2 linked regions of the Homo sapiens genome follow. The protein of the gene in region 2 interacts with the protein of the main gene of each other region in a biochemical or structural test. Each region holds a gene or a part of one and is shown on either strand. Other genes may lie near its edges. The genes, in order: USP8 and CHMP7.

The links.
Region 1: the proteins of CHMP7 (region 2) and USP8 form a complex in vitro, tested with the Homo sapiens proteins (one study listed by BioGRID).

What each region holds. Positions count from the first base shown.
Region 1 is NC_000015.10:50,430,608-50,434,421, reverse strand, and holds part of USP8 (ubiquitin carboxyl-terminal hydrolase 8), read right to left. Parts: intron 1-3,814. UniProt on the Homo sapiens protein: Hydrolase that can remove conjugated ubiquitin from proteins and therefore plays an important regulatory role at the level of protein turnover by preventing degradation. Converts both 'Lys-48' an 'Lys-63'-linked ubiquitin chains.
Region 2 is NC_000008.11:23,257,117-23,260,930, reverse strand, and holds part of CHMP7 (charged multivesicular body protein 7), read right to left. Parts: intron 2,899-3,814; coding exon 2,850-2,898; intron 2,602-2,849; coding exon 2,482-2,601; intron 2,200-2,481; coding exon 2,101-2,199; intron 1,866-2,100; coding exon 1,805-1,865; intron 788-1,804; coding exon 608-787; intron 394-607; coding exon 332-393; 3' UTR 1-331. UniProt on the Homo sapiens protein: ESCRT-III-like protein required to recruit the ESCRT-III complex to the nuclear envelope (NE) during late anaphase. Together with SPAST, the ESCRT-III complex promotes NE sealing and mitotic spindle disassembly during late anaphase.

The sequences.
Region 1 (3,814 bases), on a different chromosome or scaffold from region 2:
GTTAACAAAGAGAAAATGCAGCCGGGCGTGGTGGCTCAGGCCTGTAATCCTAGCACTTCGGGAGGCTGAGGCAGGTGGACTGCTTGAGGTCGGGAGTTTGAGACCAGCCTGGCCAACATGGTGAAACCTCATCTCTACTAAAAATACAAAAATTAGCCGGACGTGGTGGCGCACACCTGTAATCCCAGCTATTCAGGAGGCTGAGGCAGAAAAATCGCTTGAACCCAGGAGGTGAAGATTGCAGTGAGCGGAGTCTGGGCGACAGAGCAAGACTCTGTCTTTTAAAACAAAACAAAACAAAACAAAACAAAACAAAAAACCTTATGCTTCAAGAAGGATTGCAAGTGAAAAAAAAATAACTAAGTATATGCAAGAAAAATTAACATGCTTCTAACAACAAAAAATAAAAATTCTTAAGATGTGTAAACCTGACAAAGAACTTCAGCCTTAGTCAAACAGCAGTGCTCCAAAAGTGAAACCCAAAAGTGTTGAAAATGAGTTAACAAAGAGAAAATGCAGCCGTGCACAGTGGCTCACGCCTGTAATCCCAACACTTTGGGAGGCCAAGGCGGGCGGATCACGAGGTCAGGAGATCAAGACCATCCTGGCTAACACGGTGAAACCCCGTCTCTACTAAAAAGACAAAAAATTAGCCGGGCACGGTGGCGGGCACCTGTAGTCCCAGCTACTCAGGAGGCTGAGGCAGGAGAATGGCACGAACCTGGGAGGTGGAGCTTGCAGTGAGCTGAGATCGCGCCACTGCACTGCAGCCTGGGCAACAGAGACTCCATCTCAAAAAAAAATAAATAAATAAAGAGAAAATGTTCTTTCTCTGACATCCTTCTGCTCCTTTCTAAGACAAAGAGTAGGGATTTGATGACTGGAACCACAAAGTGAAGACTAAAAGGTAAAAAGTGAAAAATGAGGTTTGCAGTCATTCAAACTGGTCCTGATTTTAAGCAGGGATTCACACCAGCCACTCCTAAGGTCTTTGGCAATATTGAAAGGAAAGCAAAAGTTGTCTTTGTTGGTCACCCACCATCTCTCTCTATTTCTGCCCTTAGGCAGCAACAATACTCAACATAAGTATCTTCTCGCTGTCTTAAATCTCATAATCCACTCTACACTCGTTCTGTATAAGGTGCCACAAACAACTAAGTATTGATTAAATAACTTTTTTTTTTTTTGGAGACGGAGTCTCACTCTGTCGCCCAAGCTGGAGTGCAGTGGCATGAACTTGGCTCACTGCAACCTCCACTTCCCAGATTCAAGCAGCCTCAGCCTCCCAAGTAACTGAGATTACAGGCGCCCCGCCACCATGCCCCACTAATTTTTGTATTTTAGTAGAGACAGGGTTTCTCCATGTTGGCCAGGCTGGTCTCGAACTCCTGACCTCAGGTGATCCGCCCGCCTCGGCCTCCCAAAGTGGTGGGATTACAGGCGTGAGCCATCGTGCCCGGCCAATGAAATAACATTTTAAAGTAATCCTCAAGTATTAAGAAGGCTCAACCCTCTCAAGATTTAATCACTGCTAAAATGTATGGTATTTTCTGAGCAACTACTATGTCTCTAGCACTGTGCTAAATGCTTGAGGGCAGTGTTTTTAAAATCCATTAGAAGGTCATGATCAGCATTAAAAAAATAGCAAACATCAGACTATGTCACACATAGTAAGGTTAGGTACTGCTTCGTAAAATTGTTTCAGTTATGTACATGTGTATATGATATAACACTGGATGAAAATGTAAAATGTATTTCTTAATACAGGTGACAATTTTAAAAAAAGTATGAAAGTCTCACACTACAGCAATGTAACTCCAAGTATGGTCCAATGACCAGTGCTGATTGGGGAACTGTTTGTTATCAGTTTGTGATAAAATAAGAAGTTTGTGACAGAATGTAGATCAATTAAGCACACTGACCTTTTTAAAGTAGCAGCAAGACTTTCTCCATGCAAAAAGCAGTGCACTGACTGGGCGTGGTGCCTCACAGCTGTAATCCCAACACTCTGGGAGACTGAGGTGGGAGGACTGCTTGAGCCCAGGAGTTCAAGAACAGATATTTATGTTGAGTATTGTTGTTGCCTAAAGGGCAGAGATAGGGAGAAATGGTAGGTAGCCAACAAAGTGGGCAACAAAGTAAAGACAAAAAATTTTACAAAAAATTTAAAAATTAGCTGGGCGTAGTGGTGCACATCTGAGGTCTCAGCTACAAGAAGAAACAAACTTAAGTTCCATCTCTTCCATCCTTTATGGTCCCAGTTCTTGGAATTTGTTTCTTCATGTGAATCCTACAATGCTTGTGATCTATATCATTCCTTAAATACAGTAATGGGATCAACAGACAATTACTATAAGGCTTTAAAATCCTCATACACACGCAGTGCTCATGATGATGTGATGAGAGAGAGAACCTGGCCTTGAGGACAGAATTTAGCTAAGAACAGGGTAAGAAAGGAGGACATCTGGCTGGGCATGGTGGCTGACACCTGTAATCCCAGCACTTTGGGAGGCTGAGGCAGGCAGATCACCTGAGGTCAGAAGTTCAAGACCAGCCTGACCAATATGGAGAAACCCCGTCTCTACTAAAAATACCAAATTAGCTGGGCATGGTGGTGGACGCCTGTAATTCCACCTACTCAGGAGGCTGAGGCAGGAGAATCTCTTGAACCCAGGGGGCAGAGGTTGCAGTGAGCCAAGATCGCACCACTGCACTCCAGCCTGGGCAACAAGAGTGAAACTCCATCTCGGAAAAAATAGTAATAATAAGGAATATTACAGAAGTTATTGGGAAATAATCAATCGGATAGAGGGAAAATGTTGACATGTCTTTGGATCCCTGGCACCTATCTCAATAGTCCTCACATAGTCACCACTTTAATAAATGTTTCTCCCTGTCAGCTGAATTTAACTAAAAGGAAAAAAAAATGTTGACTAACAAGAATAACTAAATTATATTATGTAGGAGATGGAGTCACATTATGGAAGACTTTGGAAGCCATCCAGAATTCTTTATATTTGATTCAGCAGGCAATAAAAGCCAGTTCCTGATGGGAAAAATATTATCTCAAGATGGTCAAATTAGGGATATGTAAGTAAGATTGAAAGGAGATGAGAACAAGGGAATGATACTATGGAAAAGAGTAACTACAAGGTCACTGCAGAAAAGAACACAAAATGGTAGAAACATGCTTTGGTAACTGGTTGATCGAAACAGTATTTTCTCTTGCTTACACACACACACACACACACACACAGAGGCACACACACTGTACCCTGCAAAATATGAAGAGCAGTAGTGCTATTAACAAAAAAAGTAATACTGCAGTTTAAAACTGATCAGTTTACAGCAGCGTTTCTCAACCTTGCCATCACTCACATTTTGGACCAGATAAACATTTGTTGTGAGAGGCTGCTCTGTGCAATGTGCACTGCAGGATGTTTAGCAGCATCCCTAACCTCTACTAGACGCCAGTTTACTATCATCCTTCCCTTCCAGTTGTAACAACCAAAACTGTCTACAGTCATTGCCGAATGTGTCCTGGAAGGCAAAATTACCCCCAACAAGAACCACTGGTTTACAGCAAAGTAGGTAATTCGATGTGGAAAATGTTGAGTGTATGCCAAAGGAACATCTTAAGATGTAAATATTAACTAGAAATCAGTTATATGTGAGAGCAGACAGATATTAAATCTGTTTATCAACTAATAAGGCATCAATGTTGACTTTGATAATCCCTATTGTTTTGGAAGATAATTAAGTATTGACACCAAAATTATGTTATCTAGGATTTGGTGAACTGCTGGGCAACACA
Region 2 (3,814 bases):
GCTGGAACGAAGCTGGTGGGTGAAGACAAATCTAAGTGTGCCAATGGCAAGAACTGCAGGCTATGAAATGACAGGTCAGACACAGGACTGTATAAATCGTGGCACTATAAAGATGAGAAGGCAGGTCCATGATACAGCTGGGAGCAAGCCTTTGGAGCATCGCTTCCAGAAATTCTATCTGTCCTGTAGTAAGTAGTAGCATCCAGATAAAATCAGTGGTTCTCCTTTCTCCTCTTCCAAACACATTCTGAGAGTTTCTTGTTTAAATAACTATGTACACACCCAGCAAGCCTGGTCTCTCTTTTACATGAGGGTCCTTCACTTGAGGGTCCTACAATGGCTTTAGAGTCGGTTCCAATTGCCTTTTTGGAGATTTACTGCTTGGGACCAAACCTGCAAGGCAAAGAAATGACTGAACACTATAACAGGAAAATCTTGAAGATGAAGGCATTCCAGTGATTAAGAGACTGAGTCTTAATATAAACAACCCTCAACTCCCTACAGGGCTCTGGTACTCTGGCAAATGGAGTAATTGGGCTTGGGCCCATCAACTCTGTCAGCCAGAAGGCCATATGCCCTCCAAAGGCCTTGGAAAACAGCTCCATACCTCCCTCTGATAAGGACAGTTTCTCAAGTTCAGCTTCAAGTTCAGCATCTGAGATCCTAGGGTTAGGCACGCTGTTGGTAAAATGCCTATTGCGGGGGTTGTCAGGCAGATCCAAAGGTTCTTTGGTGGTATCCTGAAGGAGGATGTCCAATTCCTTCTCCAGTTCTTCACTGTCAAAATCTGGAAAGAAAAGACAACATAAAGATGCATAAACTCAAGGGAGAAATGCATTAATGAGTACAGGACTGAGGTTACCAAAACCCGCTTAGCTTTACAAAAGATGCCAGGCCTCCTTGCAGATTAAAAAAAAATCCCGGAAGTCAGGAGGGTAGCTTCAAGCAGAGATGATTCTTCCACACTCCAAGCTAAGTCACCAAGGAGGTGTATTCTGTTAACACCATGGACCTGACCCTGATTCCCACTGCCCTTGAAGGAGGATCCTCCAGTCAGAAGCCTTGTGAATGAGGAATGCCGCAGCACAGATGGGTCATGAGCACAGCTGTCGAGGAGGAAATGGCAATTCCCTGACTGCTCCCGCAGATGAGCCCCAGGGAGGGCAGGCTAGGAGAGGCCTGCCTGCACCCGGAAAAGCAAATCTACTGTCAAACTCATCACAGCACAGGGAAGCGAAGTCTTCCAGGATGAAAGGAAGAAACACTCACCTTGGGCCAGGTGTGGTGGCTCACACCTGTAACCCCAGCACTTTGGGAGGCCGAGGCCGGCGGATCACGAGGTCAGGAGTTCCAGACCAGCCTGACCAACAGGTGAAACCCCATCTCTACTAAAAATACAAAAATTAGCCAGGCGTGGTGGCGGGCGCCTATAATCCCAGCTACTCAGGAGGCTGAGGCAGGAGAATCACTTGAACCCAGGAGGCGGAGGTTGCAGCGAGCCGAGAATGCGTCACTGCACTCCAGCCTAGGTGACAGAGTGAGACTCCATCTAAAAAAAAAAAAAATGACCCCGTCTCTACTAAAAATACAAAAAATTAGCCGGGCATAGTGGCAGGCGCCTGTAGTCCCAGCTACTTGGGAGGCTGAGGCAGGAGAATGGCGTGAACCCGGGAGGCGGAGCTTGCAGTGAGCCGAGATCCCGCCACTGCACTCCAGCCTGGGCGACAGAGCGAGACTCCGTCTCAAAAAAAAAAAAAAAAAAAAAAAATGAATAAAAATAAAAATAACCACCTTGTCCACTCACCTAAGCCATTTGTTACCCCACCAGCCAGAGTCTGAGAAACTTCATCCTGGGTGTCACAGAGCTGTAAGAGACAAGTGCAAAGCCTTGAGCTGGGCATGGTGGCTCTGAGCATCTCAGTCTTTGGTGGAAAATATCTAGGGTTACAAAGCAATCCTGCCCCAAGTGAGAATCAAGGAAAGCTTCCTCAAGTTCACAAGGTCACAAGTCAGGTTTCGTTAAAGAGGATGTGCAATGAAGTCAAATCTGTCCTCTGTCACCTCCTTCTCTGTGTGTCCCTCCCTGGCCCCTTTCTGTACCTCTTGGATCTGATCCACGAGGCTCTCTGCCTTCTCCACTGTGACATCCTTCATGGAGAGTTTGAGTGCTCCTACCCCAGCCTGGTAGGCGTTAAAAACCTAAAGACAAAGCAAAGCTATCAGTGCAAATGACAGACATTTGGCAAAATACATACAATATTGTTTCAACTCCAAAAGGCAGCTTTGGGGTGTTTTTTTTGGCACCCAAGCTCAATTTACCCTATACCCACCGAGGCCAAACCTCCTGACTGGAAAGGCAAAGGCAACCCCAGCCACATCCCGAAAGAACCCAGGGATCCTCCAAACAGCCAAGCCGAAGCTGCAAGTGACCAACACACACGGAGAGACCAGCCAAGTGCTGGAGTAGAGGGGAGTGACTACCATCTGATCTGTCTGGGAGGCATAGATCCGGTCCAGGATGCCTTGAACAGTGTCCAGCTTGGCATGCAAGGCCTCGATGCGCTTCTCTGTCCGTTGCTTGGCCTTGAGAGACCTCAGTGCCTGGAGGCATGGAGACTTAGGTCAGTGCTGAACTGGGCGAGCCAAAGGGCAAGAGGAAGACAGCCCTTCCCAGACGCTAAGGATGTCCCAGCTTTCTTCCCTCCCATCTGTAAAATAAGCTGTGGTGCCTGGGCCCCCTGCAGACTCTACCCCCCTCAAAACCCCAGCAAGCTGCTCTCTGAACTGCTGGGCATTGCTCCAGGCCTGCCTGGGGCACTGCTATGGGTCTGGAGGAGACAAGAACTCACCAGCTGCTTCTTTCCTGCTCGGCATGCCCGGCGGGCTTCTTCTTTACACCTGGAAACAAAGGGACAGATAAGATTACTGTGCCACAGGATGGGAGTGGCAGGGTCCCAAAGGGTCCCTGAGAGCAGCACTCAGTTAAGGTGGTTTTAAATCTGAAGACTAAACCCAATACCCAGTGGCAAGAAAACTGATGCTGACGGCAAAAACTCTTGTGGCAAGTCTGTTGACAGTCTGTTGTGGCAGGCTCAAGCAGGCTGACTAAGGATAAGCTTTTTCAACCCACAGGGACAGAACATGCAAACAGGGCACATTATACACATCTTCCTGTTTTGGGGAGACAGGGAAGGAACTGTTAACACCAACAATGACCTCGGACATATCCTCTGCCTCCCAACAAGGCTAGACTTTCCCACCTGGAAGACAGACTTCAATGTCTGTGTTCTCCTGCCAGAGGGTGTGTCTTTATTAGGGATTCCTTGTACAGTCATTCAGGGGGAAGGGCAGGGGAAGAGCCCCTCAGAAAGACCTCTGCAAAGGCAGGGACCTGTCTTGTCCACGGCTGTATCCCCAGTCCCTAAGACAATGCCTGGCTCAATAAATATTAGTTGAATGGACACTGGCAAGGAAGAGCATAAACATAACATTCACAGTCATGGTCTGTGGGGGAAGCATTAAGACTCACGTTTTCAGCTGGGCACAGTGGCTCACCCCAGTAATCCCAGCACTTTGGGAGGCTGAGGTGGGGGTCTTGTTTGCGCCGAGGAGTGTGAGACCAGCCTGGGCAACATGGTGAGACCCCATCTCAACAAAAAATTAAAAATTAGCCAGGCATGGTGGTGCACACTTGTGGTCCCAGCTACTCAGGAGGCTAAGGCGGGAAGATTGCTTGAGCTCAGGAGTTAGACTGCAGTGAGCTAAGATCATGTCACTGCTCTCCAGCCTAGGGGACAGTGCAAGACCCTGTCTC